Linked DNA regions of Homo sapiens. The protein of the gene in region 1 purifies or fractionates together with the protein of each later gene. This does not show direct contact. Each region holds a gene or a part of one and is shown in the gene's direction. Other genes may lie near its edges.

Evidence for each region.
Region 2: the proteins of ETS1 (region 1) and ZBTB7A purify together in Homo sapiens (affinity purification with western blotting; one study listed by BioGRID). This does not show direct contact.
Region 3: the proteins of ETS1 (region 1) and SPTBN4 purify together in Homo sapiens (affinity purification with mass spectrometry; one large-scale study listed by BioGRID and IntAct). This does not show direct contact.
Region 4: the proteins of ETS1 (region 1) and ATP2B1 purify together in Homo sapiens (affinity purification with mass spectrometry; one large-scale study listed by BioGRID and IntAct). This does not show direct contact.

Annotation. Positions count from the first base shown.
Region 1 is NC_000011.10:128,479,198-128,483,347, reverse strand, and holds part of ETS1 (protein C-ets-1), read left to right. Parts: intron 1-2,896; coding exon 2,897-3,157; intron 3,158-4,150. UniProt on the Homo sapiens protein: Transcription factor. Directly controls the expression of cytokine and chemokine genes in a wide variety of different cellular contexts. May control the differentiation, survival and proliferation of lymphoid cells.
Region 2 is NC_000019.10:4,053,228-4,057,377, reverse strand, and holds part of ZBTB7A (zinc finger and BTB domain-containing protein 7A), read left to right. Parts: intron 1-1,856; exon of another isoform or gene 1,857-1,869; coding exon of another isoform or gene 1,870-2,004; intron 2,005-2,130; coding exon of another isoform or gene 2,131-2,145; coding exon 2,146-3,407; intron 3,408-4,150. UniProt on the Homo sapiens protein: Transcription factor that represses the transcription of a wide range of genes involved in cell proliferation and differentiation.
Region 3 is NC_000019.10:40,511,351-40,515,500, forward strand, and holds part of SPTBN4 (spectrin beta chain, non-erythrocytic 4), read left to right. Parts: intron 1-1,255; coding exon 1,256-2,204; intron 2,205-3,960; coding exon 3,961-4,098; intron 4,099-4,150.
Region 4 is NC_000012.12:89,614,630-89,618,779, reverse strand, and holds part of ATP2B1 (plasma membrane calcium-transporting ATPase 1), read left to right. Parts: intron 1-1,740; coding exon 1,741-1,978; intron 1,979-4,150. UniProt on the Homo sapiens protein: Catalyzes the hydrolysis of ATP coupled with the transport of calcium from the cytoplasm to the extracellular space thereby maintaining intracellular calcium homeostasis.

The DNA of each region.
Region 1 (4,150 bases):
CTGTCACATTGTTTTGAAATTGCATCTGGCTTTGCATTTGTGTAATTGTCTCTTTCCCTCTCCTTTTCTTCATTCTTGGTTTTGGTCCCTACCACCCCTCCAACCCCAAACTAATGACTGTGGACCAAAAGTGACCCTTACAAGGAGACATGAGGTATTTCTTTCTGGCTCCACTCTTCTTCCCTCCCTCCAAGTTCAGGCCACAGAAACTTGAGGGGAAGACCATTTTGTGCAGGGCTGTTTTCTGCATGTTAGAAGTGCTGCAAACAGGGCCTATGCAAAGGGCCAATTGATTCTGAGATGCTGTGATTGGTCTAGACCGAAAGCATTACTGTTAGCTGATTGTTATTTATACTAACCATAGTACAGTATTCACGGGCTGCATTACAGCGTACAGAGTGCTTCTATGCCCCACTTATTTGGGCCCTAAGGACTGTCTTTGTACGAGTCTACTCAGTGGGTGGCTGGGTGCTGCCGCATCTTCTGTTTTGAGTGCTCTGAGGTCTGTTTGGTGGACTCAGATAGCTTTGGAAGGAGCTCGCCGAGGCCCTTCTCAGAAAGGCTGGCTAGTGGACAGTTTAGAGAACACAGGTTTCCCTACATGAGCGCAGCAGCATAACTGAGTATCTAATCCAGTTGGATTCTACCCATTTTTGGAGAAAATACCCGTAAATGAAGGTTCCCAGCACCAGGGTTGTGAAATCGAGCTAAAATGAAAGCTGCCTACCGCTGTAAACCACAACTCTCAACAGGGTTGCATTTGCCTCATGTTTGGGGGGTTGCCAGAGACTGGTTCTGGCTTGGTTTAGTCCCCTTGCTTAGTGGGACTCCTTGGAAACTCTACTATCTTGCTTGTGAAAATTCTGATGTCCTTTTTCTCCAAGTATAAAATTGGCTGATAGAAATGGAATCATTTCAGAGAGACTTTAGCATAAATACTATCGACTTGGTGCGGTGTTGATGAAAATATAAATTCTCCTTCTTAGGCTTTTGGTATGTTTGTCTCAAAGAGAAAATAAGTGACCATGAAGATCAGTAGCTGGTATGAACAAATACCTTTTTATGAGACGCCACAGAATTTCCTGTTCTGCTAAAACAAGGCTTTGACATTCTGGTTGTAGGCTGTTTTCTTAAATCATTTAGTGTGAATTTCTTGAAAGAAAATTAAATGATCTCTAAAAAGGTGAAAAAGATGACTTTTCTGGTGGGTAAATGGGAAAGAATTTTTAAGAATTATAAAGAAATATATATTCATTTTTAGTAAGAATGAAGAGGTGCCCTTTTGCTAGTGGACTGGGTGGGCAGGGCTGATAACTCCATGAAGCTCTTCAGTTTGCTTTCCAGAGATTACCCTCCTCTGAATGGATGAGTGGAGGAAGGAATGAGATGAAACGGATGACACCACCTTTCTGTTTAAAGCAGTTCCAGAGGGGGTCAGGATGTAGAGAAAACCCACAGCAGTGGATTTTACAAAAAGTACACACTCAACCGAATACATTTTATCCGGATCTTTAAACAATGTTGGGAGCAACATATTTTCCTATATATTTAATTTAGGTTTGGGCATCTGTTCATGTTTGATGTTTATTGTTTTAACCAATCTCCGCTGTCATGGAGGGAAAAATACACTGGAGGCACACTAATATGAAGTTGTATAAGTCAGCCTTATTCTGGGATTTGAAATTTATAGATCAACCACCCCTGAACAATTAAGAGTTGACTTACGGATATTTCTCCGTAAACATTTGTCACATCCCTTTGCCTTTTGGCCTGTGCTGAATTGAGGTGACCATCTAGTCTCCTATGATTTAACTTAGGTTACTTGAAAAGTATCTGAAAGTTGCATATAAAAACCATTCCTGCGAGCCTTTTTCGCTCTTAGATTCATTTGTTTTCCTCCAAAACTATTTTTTTTTTTTTTTTGCTAGCCTCCTTTTTAGTGGCATTTTTGCCAATGGAAATTTCTCCAGGAGCTATTGTGCAATCATAGCAGCTGTTTATAACCTGGTTTGGGAAATTAATGAACTTGCATGATCTTGTGGTCAGTTAAGAATGCCTTAAGCAACTCACACAGTAAAGGATTTCTGACACTGCTGTGGACCTTAACTCTTTAATAAACCTTTTAAATATTGCCTACACTTTTCCAATGAAGTTTAAATTTCAAGTACATAATTTTACTTGGAGAGGATAAAGAATATGGTTTTCTGTTTAGAAGAGTGATAGTGTGTGTGATTTTAAAAAATCTCTTGGGAAAAGCATCTTACACCATCTTACTCTATTTGAAAAGGCATAGGGTCAGTACATGTATTTCATATTAAAATAGTATTTGGGAAAAATGCTAAAAAATAGCACTTAGTTCCAAGGTCAAAACAGGCTAATCTGCTCTTAGTCTAATGGGATTCTTTTTTCTTATGACCAAAATGTTTTCCAAACTGGGCCTTTTGAAGTCATCTCATTGGCTTGAGCTGGAGTGGGGAATTCAGCCTGACATTGCTCTGATTTCTTCATTTATTCATTGGGCCTACGACATCAGCCAGAAATCATATCATAACATGTGTGATCCTCAGCTTCTAGATTTCTGGCTTTAGAACTCTTGAGGACCCAAACGCTACTCCGACAGATGTGAGCAACGTTTGACTCTGAATCTCTGTACTTGGAGTTCTCAAACCAGGCAGCAGAGTGGCCGTGGACCCTCGGATGGTGGCCTAGTGCAGCCCCTTTCCTCAGAGTAAACCCATGACCCCTGAAGCTTCTGTTCCCACTCGCCTCTCCCTTCTTCCGTCCTTCCTGCAGATCTGATTAGCAATCTGTCCTCCATAAGAGGGTTTTTACAGTTTTTTTTTTTTCCCACTCCCTCCTCCCCCTGTCCTCTTCCTACCTCCTCCTTTACCTCCAGGTAAACTCGGGGGCCAGGACTCTTTTGAAAGCATAGAGAGCTACGATAGTTGTGATCGCCTCACCCAGTCCTGGAGCAGCCAGTCATCTTTCAACAGCCTGCAGCGTGTTCCCTCCTATGACAGCTTCGACTCAGAGGACTATCCGGCTGCCCTGCCCAACCACAAGCCCAAGGGCACCTTCAAGGACTATGTGCGGGACCGTGCTGACCTCAATAAGGACAAGCCTGTCATTCCTGCTGCTGCCCTAGCTGGCTACACAGGTAGGCGCCCTCCCGCTGCTTAGGCCAACTCCATCTGCACGTTTCTGTGGGTGGGGTCCTGGAAGGCACTCTGCACCTCTGACCAGAGACGACGAGAGACTCCCTTTTGCAGGGCACGGGGGAGAAGTCTCTCTAAGAATTCTTTAGTCTCTCTCCAGCCACTCTGCTTGTGAATAGCCATTGATTTTTGGAAGCAAATAGTATCATTCTCTTCAAAGGGATCATTTCCAAGAATGGTAGGAAACTTACATTTTGGGTGTTTTTCCATGTCTGGGGGAAGGGAACTATAATGATCTGGTGTTCCTGGAAACTCTATCTAGTGGCCTGGCATCAGGGGATTTTTCCTGGTCTGCTCTTGGGAGGTCTTTCTAAATACAAAATCAGCAGCAGCATCTCTCAAAGGCACAACTGAATGGCCTCCGCACTGGACTCTTCTGCAGCACGGTTCTCCTTAGGCCAGCTGTTCAAATGTGGGAACAGTATCCTCAGTGGCACTACGCCCTGTCCAGATCCATCCTGGCCTATAGAGAATGCCCCTTCTCTTACTCGGCTTTATTATCAGTTTTCTTCCAGGAGCGAAAGCTATAGTTATGATAGTGATGGGTGAAGAAAGGCCATAGAGAAAGGAAGATGTAGGTTGAGAGCTTGAACTTTGATTGAGACTCTGGTAGTAGAGCAAAACAATGCTTTCTTCAAATGGGTTGTAGCATATCATGCTACTTAACCAGAAAAACATGTGGAGAGTATATCTGAGAAATAGCCAAGGAGCATTAATGTGTTAATCATCAGATCTCTCTGTAAGATTGTAGTGTTTTCTAAAAATTAGAAAGTGTGTTGTGAGTAGAGCTTATTTTAAAGTAGCTTTGATTACTCAGATGTGGTCTAGGCCTTTATTCTCTTATAATTCTCTCCACCCTGGATATGTTTTCATGTAGGGACCCTTTGTGTGGATGATGACAAACAGCAAGATCTGTGTTTCTATTGAGGTGTCTC
Region 2 (4,150 bases), on another chromosome or scaffold:
TCAGAGTGCCCTTTCCTTATTTATTTATTTTTCCAACACGGAGTTTCGCTCTTGTTGCCCAGGCTGGAGTACAATGGCGCAATCTCACCGCAACCCCCGCCTCCCGGGTTCAAGCGATTCTCCTGCCTCAGCCTCCCGAGTAGCTGGGATTACAGGCACGCGCCACCACACCTGGCTAATTTTGTATTTTTAGTAGAGACGAGATTTCACCATGTTGGTCAGGCTGGTCTTGAACTCCAGACCTTAGGTGATCCGCCTGCCTTGGCTTCCCAAAGTGCTGGGATTATAGATGTGAGCCACAGTGCCCAGCCCTTTTTTTTTTTCTTTTTCTTTTTCTTTTTTTTTTTTTTTCAGACCGAGTCTCGCTGTGTTGCCCAGGCTGGAGTACGGTGGCTCCATCCAGGTTCACCACAACCTTCGCCTCCCGGGTTCAAGCGATTCTTCTGCCTCAGCGTCCTGAGTAGCTGGGATTACAGGCACGCGCCACCACGCCTGGCTGATTTTTTTTTTTAAGACGGAGTCTCGCTCTGTGGCCCAGGCAGGAGTGCAGTGGTGCAATCTCGGCTCACTGCAACCTCCACCCCCCAGGTTCAAGCGATTCTCCCGCCTCAGCCTCCCGAGTAGCTGGGATTACAGGCACGTGCCATCACGCCCATCTATTTTTGTATTTTTAGTAGAGACAGAGTTTCACTGTGTCAGCCAGGATGGTCTCGATCTCCTGACCTGGTGATCTGCCCGCCTCGGCCTCCCAAAGTGCTGGGATTACAGGTGTGAGCCACCACACCCAGCCTAATTTTTGTATTTTTAGTAGAGACAGGGTTTCACCATGTTGGCCAGGCTGGTCGCTGGTCTTGAACTCCTGACCTCAAGTGATCTGCCCACCTCAGCCTCCCCAAAATGCTAGAATTACAGGCGTGAGCACCGAGCCGGGCCTCAAAGTGCCCTTTCAACAGGCATTCCCGGGGGCCCTCCTCGGAGGGGTGGTGCCAGTGTGCTTGTGAAATTTAAGCGTCCAGTGTGGGTTTTGCCAGCCTCATCTCACGCTGATGAGACAGAACAGGGCATCTGACTGCTCTTGGGCACAGCTAGGGAAACTGAGGCTGATGGGGGGCAGGAAACCTGACTGTCCTCATGCACAGCTGGGGAAATTGAGGCTGGGGGCAGGACAGCTGGCCGCCCTTGTGTACAGATGGGAAACAGGTTGGGAGTGGGACACCTGATTGCCTTCCTGTACAGCTGGGGAAACTGAGGCTGGGGACATGACGTCTGATTGCTTTTGTGTACAGCTGGGGAAACAGGCTGGGGGAGGCAGGACATCTGACCATTCTCATGCACAGCTGGGGAAACTGAGGCTAGAGGATAGGACATTTGACTGCACTTGGGAACAGCTGGGGAAACTGAGGCTGGGGAGCCGGGACATCTGGCTATCCTCATGCACAGATGGAAAACAGTCTTGGCCGGGTGCCGTGGTTCATGCCTGTAATCTTAGCACCTTGGGAGGCAGGGGCGGTTGGATCATTTGAGGCCAGGGTTTTTTGATTTGTTTTGTTTTTTTGAGATGGAGTCTTGCTCTGTTGCCCAGGCTGGAGTGCAGTGGCGTGATCTCAGCTCACTGCAAGCTCTGCCTCCTGGGTTCATGCCATTCTCCTGCCTCAGCCTCCCGAGTAGCTGGAACTACAGGCCCCCGCCAACACGCCCGGCTAATTTTTTGTATTTTTTAGTAGAGACGGGGTTTCACTGTGTTAGCCAGGATGGTCTCCATCCCCTGACCTCATGATCTGCCTGTCTCGGCCTCCCAAAGTGCTGGGATTACAGGCGTGAGCCACCGCGCCAGGCCGAGGCCAGGGGTTTGAGACCAGCCTGGCCAACATGGTGATAGCCTGTCTCTGTATTAAAGACACACAAAAAAGAAAAGAGGCTGGAGGCAGGGCATGTATCGCTTTGGTGCACAGCTGGGGAAGCTGGGGCTGGAAAGGCGCGACATCTGACCGCCTTCACGTGCAGGTGGGAATGTGAGGCTGGGGGAGCAGGGTGGAACGCTGCTTCTCAAGGGCCTCGGGCCCTTGTCAGTGGGCACAGGAACCCCCGCACCCCCACTCACGAGCGCCCTCTCCTTCCCCACTGCTGCAGGTCTCGGCGCGGAAGATGGCCGGCGGCGTGGACGGCCCCATCGGGATCCCGTTCCCCGACCACAGCAGCGACATCCTGAGTGGGCTGAACGAGCAGCGGACGCAGGGCCTGCTGTGCGACGTGGTGATCCTGGTGGAGGGCCGCGAGTTCCCCACGCACCGCTCGGTGCTGGCCGCCTGCAGCCAGTACTTCAAGAAGCTGTTCACGTCGGGCGCCGTGGTGGACCAGCAGAACGTGTACGAGATCGACTTCGTCAGCGCCGAGGCGCTCACCGCGCTCATGGACTTCGCCTACACGGCCACGCTCACCGTCAGCACAGCCAACGTGGGTGACATCCTCAGCGCCGCCCGCCTGCTGGAGATCCCCGCCGTGAGCCACGTGTGCGCCGACCTCCTGGACCGGCAGATCCTGGCGGCCGACGCGGGCGCCGACGCCGGGCAGCTGGACCTTGTAGATCAAATTGATCAGCGCAACCTCCTCCGCGCCAAGGAGTACCTCGAGTTCTTCCAGAGCAACCCCATGAACAGCCTGCCCCCCGCGGCCGCCGCCGCCGCTGCCAGCTTCCCGTGGTCCGCCTTTGGGGCGTCCGATGATGACCTGGATGCCACCAAGGAGGCCGTGGCCGCCGCTGTGGCCGCCGTGGCCGCGGGCGACTGCAACGGCTTAGACTTCTATGGGCCGGGCCCCCCGGCCGAGCGGCCCCCGACGGGGGACGGGGACGAGGGCGACAGCAACCCGGGTCTGTGGCCAGAGCGGGATGAGGACGCCCCCACCGGGGGTCTCTTTCCGCCGCCGGTGGCCCCGCCGGCCGCCACGCAGAACGGCCACTACGGCCGCGGCGGAGAGGAGGAGGCCGCCTCGCTGTCGGAGGCGGCCCCCGAGCCGGGCGACTCTCCGGGCTTCCTGTCGGGAGCGGCCGAGGGCGAGGACGGGGACGGGCCCGACGTGGACGGGCTGGCGGCCAGCACGCTGCTGCAGCAGATGATGTCATCGGTGGGCCGGGCGGGGGCCGCGGCGGGGGACAGCGACGAGGAGTCGCGGGCCGACGACAAGGGCGTCATGGACTACTACCTGAAGTACTTCAGCGGCGCCCACGACGGCGACGTCTACCCGGCCTGGTCGCAGAAGGTGGAGAAGAAGATCCGAGCCAAGGCCTTCCAGAAGTGCCCCATCTGCGAGAAGGTCATCCAGGGCGCCGGCAAGCTGCCGCGACACATCCGCACCCACACGGGCGAGAAGCCCTACGAGTGCAACATCTGCAAGGTCCGCTTCACCAGGTGAGCTGCCCGCCGCGGGGGAGGCGCCGTCCTGCTCTCTGCCCCAGCATCCGCCGCTCACGACCCCTCCCGCCTCTCTCCCTGCACCGCACGCACACATGCACGCAGACGCACACATACACGCACGTGCACACAGACACGTACACGCACAGACACATGCACGTCACCTACACATCCACACACACGCAGACACACATACACGCACTTGCACATATATACGCACATGCACACACATGCACAGACGCGTATGCCACGTACACATGCACACACACAGACGCACACACGCACACGCACACCACATACACATACAGACATGCTACACAGACACATGCAGACACAGATGCACACCACATACACATCACATACACATGCACGCACACACACGCACACCGACATGCGCGCACACACACGCACACCACATACACATCACATACACATGCACGCACGCACGCACGCACACACGCACACCCAGGCACGCACACAGATGCACACGCACCCCCAGACATGCATGCAGGCACATGCACACAGACACGTACATGCGCACACATACATGCACATGCATGCAAACATGCACCCACAGACACACATATATGCACACACACGCAAACAGACACACCCCACCTCTTGGGCCCAAAGCCAACGAACGCTTCCCTGACCCACGTGGCTGTTAAGAACAGCCTAGACCAGGCCCTGCCCTTGTGGGTGGACATCCCGGTGGGTGACAGCACAGGCCAGACATAAGA
Region 3 (4,150 bases), on another chromosome or scaffold:
TGAGCTGAGATCAAGCCATTGCACTCCAGCCCAGGCGACAGTGAGAGACTCTGTCTCAATCAAACAAACAAACAATACCAAACAACAACAGCAACAACAACAAAAATACTCCCCCGACCTTGTTTTGCATTGTGATATTTTCCGTTCCTTCTATTCTATTCCACCAAACAAATGCTGGCTGTGACCCATTAAATTAACTTCACTGTTTTCTAGTCGCCAACTAGCCATCCAGGAGGAAGGTGAACTATTTAAGGAAAAAGAGGGAGTTCGGGGTTAAGCACAGTGGCTCATGCCTATAATCCCAACACTTCGGGAGGCCAAGTGGAAGGATTGCTTGAGGCCAGCCGTTCAAGACCAGCCTGGCCAACATAGTGAGATCCTGTCTCTATTTTAAAAAGAAAAAGGAGTGCAGATAACCACTGGGATTGATAGATAATGCAACAGAGGATGACAGAGGGAACCTAGAAACATGGTTTAAGAAAAGAGAAGTTGGCCGGTGGCAGTGGCTCATGCCTGTAATCCCAGCAGTTTAGGAGGCCAAGGCGGGTGGATCACTGGAGGTCAGGAGTTTGAGACCAGCCTGGCCAGCATGGTGAAACCCCGTCTCTACTAAAAATACAAAAATGAGCCAGGCGTGGTGGCGGGCGCCTGTAATCCTAGCTACTGGGGAGGCTGAGGCAGGAGAATCGCTTAAACCTGGAGGTGGAGGTTGCAGTGAACCGAGATCGCGCTACTGCACTCCAGCCTGGGCAACAGAGTAAGAATCTGTCTCAAACACACAAACAAACAAAAAACAAAGAAGTTTCATTTGACTCAGTTCTGACATAAGCACAATTTTCACTCAAATATACAGAATCTGAGATGCTCTGAATCCATCCATCATTCAGTCAACAAATCACTACATTCACTAGGCTACAGCTCTGGGCTCCACCCTTTGCTGGGCAGTGTTTGGGATAGGGTGTGACAGACCCAGGTCCTGCCCTTAAGGAGCTCTCAGTCCAGTGGGGGAGACAGGACAAGGCAATGACAACACAGAGTAGTCAGGGCTAGGATGGGGAAGCAGAGAAGCCTGAGAGGGTCGAGGAGGAGCCTGCTCCAGCCTTGGGGTGTCAGGGAAGGCTGCCTGGAGGAGGAGCCACGTGACCCGGCATCTGATGAAGTCACACCAAGGACAGGGTAGGTAGCCCGCACCATCCTCTCTTGGGCGCCCCTTGGCTTGTGACCAATCCTGGATGCTCCCCTTCTCCTGGCTCAGGCTACCAGCCCTGCGACCCGCAGGTCATCTGCAACCGCGTGAACCACGTGCACGGCTGCCTGGCGGAGCTGCAGGAGCAGGCAGCGCGGCGACGCGCGGAGCTGGAGGCTTCGCGGAGCCTGTGGGCGCTGCTGCAGGAGCTGGAGGAGGCCGAGAGCTGGGCGCGCGACAAGGAGCGTCTCCTGGAGGCTGCGGGCGGCGGCGGTGCGGCGGGCGCAGCGGGCGCAGCGGGAACAGCGGGCGGCGCGCATGACCTGTCCAGCACAGCGCGCCTCCTGGCCCAGCACAAGATCCTGCAGGGCGAGCTGGGCGGGCGGCGAGCGTTGCTGCAGCAGGCCCTGCGGTGTGGCGAGGAGCTGGTTGCGGCCGGCGGTGCCGTCGGCCCGGGAGCAGACACCGTGCACCTGGTAGGCCTGGCGGAGCGCGCGGCGAGCGCCCGGCGCCGCTGGCAGAGGCTGGAAGAGGCGGCGGCGCGGCGAGAGCGGCGGCTGCAGGAGGCGCGGGCGCTGCACCAGTTCGGCGCTGACCTCGACGGGCTGCTGGACTGGCTTCGCGACGCTTACCGCCTGGCAGCCGCCGGTGACTTCGGCCACGACGAAGCTTCCAGCCGCCGCCTGGCGCGCCAGCACCGCGCGCTCACCGGGGAGGTGGAGGCACATCGCGGGCCCGTGAGCGGCCTGCGGCGCCAGCTGGCGACACTCGGGGGTGCCAGTGGCGCAGGGCCACTGGTGGTGGCGCTGCAGGTGCGCGTGGTGGAAGCAGAGCAGTTGTTCGCTGAGGTGACCGAAGTGGCGGCGCTGAGGCGCCAGTGGCTGCGGGACGCGCTCGCTGTCTACCGCATGTTTGGCGAGGTGCACGCGTGTGAGCTGTGGATCGGCGAGAAGGAGCAATGGCTGCTCTCCATGCGTGTGCCGGATTCACTCGACGACGTCGAGGTGGTGCAGCACCGGTGAGCGCGCACATGTGGGACTCCGGGGTCCCCTTCCTCATGCACCCAGTCTCACCTTCATTGGCTCAACAGTTCCCATGTTTGCTCAGCTGGAACTAGGAGTTCCAATCCCTGCTTCACCCATAGCCAGCTTTGTGACAGTTCTGCAACCTGCCTAATCTTCCTGAACCTCAGCTTGCCCACCTGTATAATGGGGGTGATATTAGTCCCTACCCAGGCTTGTGATGAACGGTAAATGAGTTCATACATGCAGAATACGAAGCAAATGCCTGGGGGTAGAGGAAGCATTCCCCCAGCATTTGCTCTTGTTACCCAGGCTTACATTCGCCAAGCATGAAATCAACGACCTATGCTTCTACAGGGACACCTCAGCCTGGCCCCTCTGCTGGGAGGCCTCCCATTGCTTCTGCATAAATGTCACCTCCCTAGCTACTAAAATAGCTCTGACTCTTGTGATTTTCCATTGTTTCATCCTGTTTTACATTTCTTTGTAGCACTTACCATCCCATGACATATTGTATACTGACTTGTCTGTTGGCTGACTTAGCAATGAGTTGTTCAATTAGTGGGTGAACAATGCCTATTCCCCCTCTGCACCACTCTGTCTGAGCATCTTATTCATCCATACATTCATTCAGCAGGTGTTTACTGAGTGCCTATGCCTTTCTAGGTCTTGTGCTGGGCACTGCTGGAAACACAGGGCTGCTCCTTGCCCCTACTGTGCCTGCAGTTGCCCAGTTCTTTGAAACATTGATTTAAAGATGGGAGGACCATGTCTAGCTTAAAGTAGACCTCAGTGGCTGCCATGTGGAGGGCAGGTTGGAGCGGGTAAGAGTTGTGGCTGGGAACCCAGAGAGGCAACTGGGCTGGGGACCCAGATGGAGCGGAACAAGATTAGACCAGGGCGGGAGGTAAGTAAACAGGCCATGGAGACTGATGGGCTGGAGCGATTTTCCAAAACAAAGCCCAGGGCTCTGGCCTGGCAGATGACAGTGCTGTCCCCAACATGGGGGCCCAGAGGAAGAACAAATTTGAGTCAGGTGGGTGTGAATAGCCCCAAGAAGGTATACAGTAGGCTTTGAGGTCGAAGACAGGTTCAAAAGGTAAGAGGTTGAGGCTGGAGACTGAGGTGTGACTGTCATGAGTTCAGGGGCAAAGACCAAGGCTGTGGGGCTGGGTGGAATCATTGAAGAAGGGTGTGAAGGAAAACCCAGAGGGCTCAGGGTGGAGTTGCTGCTGAGGAATCTCACATTTAAACATCAGGTAGAGGCTGGGCGTGGTGGCTCACGCCTGTAATCCCAGTACTTTGGGAGGCCAAGGCAGGTGGATCATATAAGATCAGGAGTTGGAGACCAGCCTGGCTAACATGGTGAAATCCCGTTTCTACTAAAAATAGAAAAGTTAGCTGGGCGTGGTGGCGCATGCTTGTAATCCCAGCTACATGGGAGGCTGAGACATGAGAATCGCTTGAATCCGGGAGGCAGAGGTTGCAGTGAGCCACAATCGCGCCACTGCACTCCAGCCTGGGTGACAGAGCGAGACTCTGTCTCAATACATACATACATAAATTAATTAAATTAAATTAAATAAGTTAAATTAAATTAAATAAAATAAGCAGCAAGTAGAAGAGAAGGAGCCCACAAAGGAGGCTGAAAAGAAGGGTGGATTGAGAATTAGGAGTAGAACCAGTAGAAGGTATTTCATAAAACCAAGGTCCGCAGGGTTCGGGTGTCTGAGCATCTCCATCCTCCTGCAGATTCGAGAGCCTGGACCAAGAGATGAACAGCCTGATGGGCCGCGTTCTGGACGTGAACCACACAGTCCAGGAGCTGGTGGAAGGAGGCCACCCCAGTTCAGATGAGGTGCGTTCCTGCCAGGACCACCTCAACAGCAGGTAGGAGGGCCTGGGGCTGGGAGTCCCTCCCATCCTTCCCTTCCACACTCAC
Region 4 (4,150 bases), on another chromosome or scaffold:
TTTTGGGTGAGAGATCACACTGTAGGGATGTGGCATTTAAGATAGATTTTGGTATGAAATGAGAACTTCGAGGTGGGGAAACCACAGCAGAGGAAAGGAGATGAGAATATGCAGGTCATACTGGGGAGGGGAATATCTGGTTGTATAGTTCAGCTGAATAGTGATGGGCTTTTGTGGCACACAGGCCATATACAGCTTTCTTCTTGCCACAGTACACTCAGTTACCTGATTTCATTGAAAAGGTTAGAAATCTGTTTCAACCCTGGCTTGCTGGGTAGTAGATAGATGGTTTAGGAGAGAATTTTTTTTAGTCAAAACTGATCAGGCATTGACTCTTTCTCTGCAACTAACTAGCTTCTGGATATGGGGCAGATTTTTCCCTTACTTCCATTTTTCTCATCTGAGAAAGCGGGTGATGACCACCAACTCTGTGGCACTTAAATGAAGTAATGCATACCAACTGTCTAGTGTGAAGCCTGGTGGACAGTAAACATACAGCAAGTGTTCCCACAGTAATATTTGCATTTTGTTGTGGAGACTTTTTAAATGTTGGGCTGAGCAGTTAAAATTGAAGTAAGCCAGATAATGCAAATGAGGTATTTTTTTCTTCAAGTAGTAGAATCATCAAAGCTGTGATTAAAGATAATTCTTGCATCAGGGAACAAGGTGGGTTAGAGGGAAAAAAAAAATCAACTAGAGACATATCAGTTAAAAGGCTATTGCTATTACAATAGCTGTAGCTTTGTAGCTTGAAGTAAGAACCAGAAGAAAGTAGTAGCAGGAGAAATAAAAAGGAGTGGACACATTGAGGAGGCTGTTCAGAGGAGAAATGTATAGGACTTAGGAGCTAATAGTAGAGAGATGATCAGGAAAAATAAGTATTAAGGTGAAATTTTAGACTTACATCAAAATGATTAGGGTAATGTTGATGCACATTACATGGGCAGTGAAGAGGCAGCTTCCAGTCTTTCATCCATTAAGGTTTAGGTACTGATAAAACATCTGGGTAGAATTTTTCAGCAGTGATGGAAAGCTTTGAAAAACAAAACAGAAGATGTGGATTTGGGAATTACCTCCCTAGAAGCAGGAAGAGATGGCATCATCAAGGGAGAGGAGTATAGAGAGGCATTATGAAAAACAAACTTTAAATAGGTATATAGTATGATTTTTATTCATTATGTAATGAAAGAAAAGGTAGTAGTGTCACTGAAAATAACTTTTGGCATTAACTCTCATTCTGATAGAATGCTTATTTTAACAATAAGTTATTTTTTTTCTTTCATGGTTAAAACAATATAGGTGATGAAACAACATCTCAGGTAAGGGGTTGACTACGCTTGGCTTTTTACCTTAAAAGAAGAAAACATTTGTGATTTTGGTATTATTTCAAACTAATGTCTGATTCTGTACCAAAATGGTGAAGTATATAGTTTATTCTCCTTTGCCACCCAGGGATTCTTTATGAAAGTTTGAAAGCACTGCATTTCCAAAAGACAAGGTTTAGAGAAGTTCTAGAGTAATTGATAAATGGAGAACTGTCAAATGAGAACCATACATATTAGTTCTGTTTTGTAAAAGGGAGGGTGAAAAGTGAATTTAAGTCTATAAAAATGAATTATATGTAATTCTCTAAATTCCAGATATCAGATCCCATGATTTCTAGGCCTGCCAGTTCACTTAAATGGCATTAACCATTATTTTTTTAAATTATTGATGTTTGGATTCAACATTTCCTTTTAGGTGTTTCAAAATCTTGAGTGCTAATGGTGAGGCAAAAGTATTCAGACCAAGGGACCGTGATGATATTGTAAAAACTGTGATTGAACCGATGGCATCAGAAGGCTTGAGAACCATATGTCTTGCATTCAGAGATTTTCCAGCAGGAGAACCAGAACCAGAGTGGGATAATGAAAATGATATTGTCACCGGCCTTACATGCATTGCTGTTGTGGGGATTGAAGATCCTGTGAGACCTGAGGTGGTGAAACATTCTGTGTTCTGCATGTGCAGAATCTCATAACTATAGAGGACCTAGGCCTTAATTGTAACCAGTTTTCTAGTAAAATTCTTGGTGTTTGTGATTTTTTTTTTTTCTGTGTGAACCCAAGATAAATGAAATAATAGTACCTACAGTGCATATGCTAGCTTTTATGGTTTTTAAAGACAGTGTCTCTTTGGGATCCTATGTGTTCATAGCACCATAACCTAGCACAGTGCCTTGAAGTGGGTAGAATTTTCAGTTATTATTTATCTTAAATTAAATAATAGGTGCCATTATTTGTTTTCACAGTCTCTAGACTAGCATTGTCTAGTAGAGCTTTCTGTGATAATAGGAATGTTCTGTATATTGTTTAGTACAGTAGCCACTAGCCATGTGTGAATACTGACTTCTAGTTTTCAGTGGCTAGTGCAACTAAAAGACAGGATTTTTAAATTTTATTTAATTCAAATTAAAATATCTTGCTAGTAGTTGTCATATTGGATGGCATGCAGCTCTAGACTGATTTCCCTCTTTAATTTTTTTTTGCTATTTGGTTTTTCACCTTTTTTAAGTTTGTTGAACAACTACTGTGTGCCAGGCACTATCCTAAGGTACTAGAGACTTAAGAGTTTTGAGATCTGATCACCGGCCTCAAAGAAGTTACTGTCTTATGTGGGACGAACCAAACACGTGATTATTGCAACCCAAGATATTACTACCTTGCTGGGTATATACAGAGCATGTTATATGAGCAGAGAACACGAGTTCCCAACCTAGCCTAATAGCATCTTTTTATTGAGTTCTCACTGTGTGCCATATACTTAAGCCATGTGTTTTACAAGTAATTTTTTTAAATGTCTACCTTTATGAGGTATGCATATTATTACTCTTATTTGGCAGATTTTTAAGAATCAAAAATGTATAGAGCGTTAGACATGTTTAAAAATACATTTTTAAAAAATCGAGAATGTATAGAGCATAGACCTAGTGTGTTAAAATACCAGCTTTGTCTAAAACACATGTGCTTAAAAGACTACTGTACTGTATTGACCACTGGAGGGGTCAGGTAAGACTTCCTAGAGGTTAATTACCTGATCTGATTCTTAAAGAAGGAGGAAGTATTATCTAAACCAAGAAAGAGAGCGAGCAGTTAGGTATATTCTGAGCAAAGAAGCAACATAAATAAAAGCACTAACAGAAAACCACTTTTGTTCAGTGACTTTATCAGCTAATTGATTCAAAACCTAATGTGTAGCACTCTTTTAGGAGCTGGAAATACTGCAGTGACCAGAATAGGCTTGAGATTTATATTCTAGAGGAAGAAGACAGCTAAGTAGGTAGAATGATAGATACATGGACACCATGTCAAGTGAAAAATGAATTCTGGGAGGAATAAGACTTGGTCCCTGTTCTCATAGGCCTTAAGATATTCTGGGTGGCAGGGTGGCATATCAGGGGGGATGATATTAAATAAGACAATTACAAGTGCAGAAGGGCTATATAAGATATGCACGGTGTAATGAAATAAAGTAATGGAGAGAGACTGCATTAAGAATTTCTGAGGATGTGGCATTTGAGTTGCAATCTGATGGTTCATAGTGGGTCTGCCATGTAAATAGCTGCAAGAAGAGCATTCCAAGCAAAACGAGAAATGCAAGTGAAAGTGAGAAAAGTAGCTATTTTAAAGGTGGAAAAGAGGCCAGTGTGGCTATAAATGTAAAGAAGAAAGGGGAGACGAGATGATCTCTGGCCTTACTGGGCTGTGAGGACTCTGAATTTTCTGAAATTCAGGCTGGGAAGTGACATGATTTATGTTGTTAAAATACTATTTTGGGTACGTGTAAGACAGGGATTAGAGATGAAGAAGAGTAGAAGCAGGGAAGCTAATGAGATTATTGCAGTGATCCCAGGCAAGAGATGATCATGGCTTGGCCCACAGTTGTGGCATAGGAGATGGAAAGAAAAGAATGATTTCAAAGTAAGTGGAGATAGAACCAGTAGGAAGTAATATGTTGGGTTTGGATACGCTGTTTTTGACATTGTTGAGGTGTCTGAGACATCCAAATGTATGTCAAGCATTTGGACCTCAGAGCCTGAAAGTGGGCTAGTCTGAAGAAATCACTGATGAAACTAAAGATATTTAGAGAAAGTGTGTAGCTAGGGAAGAAG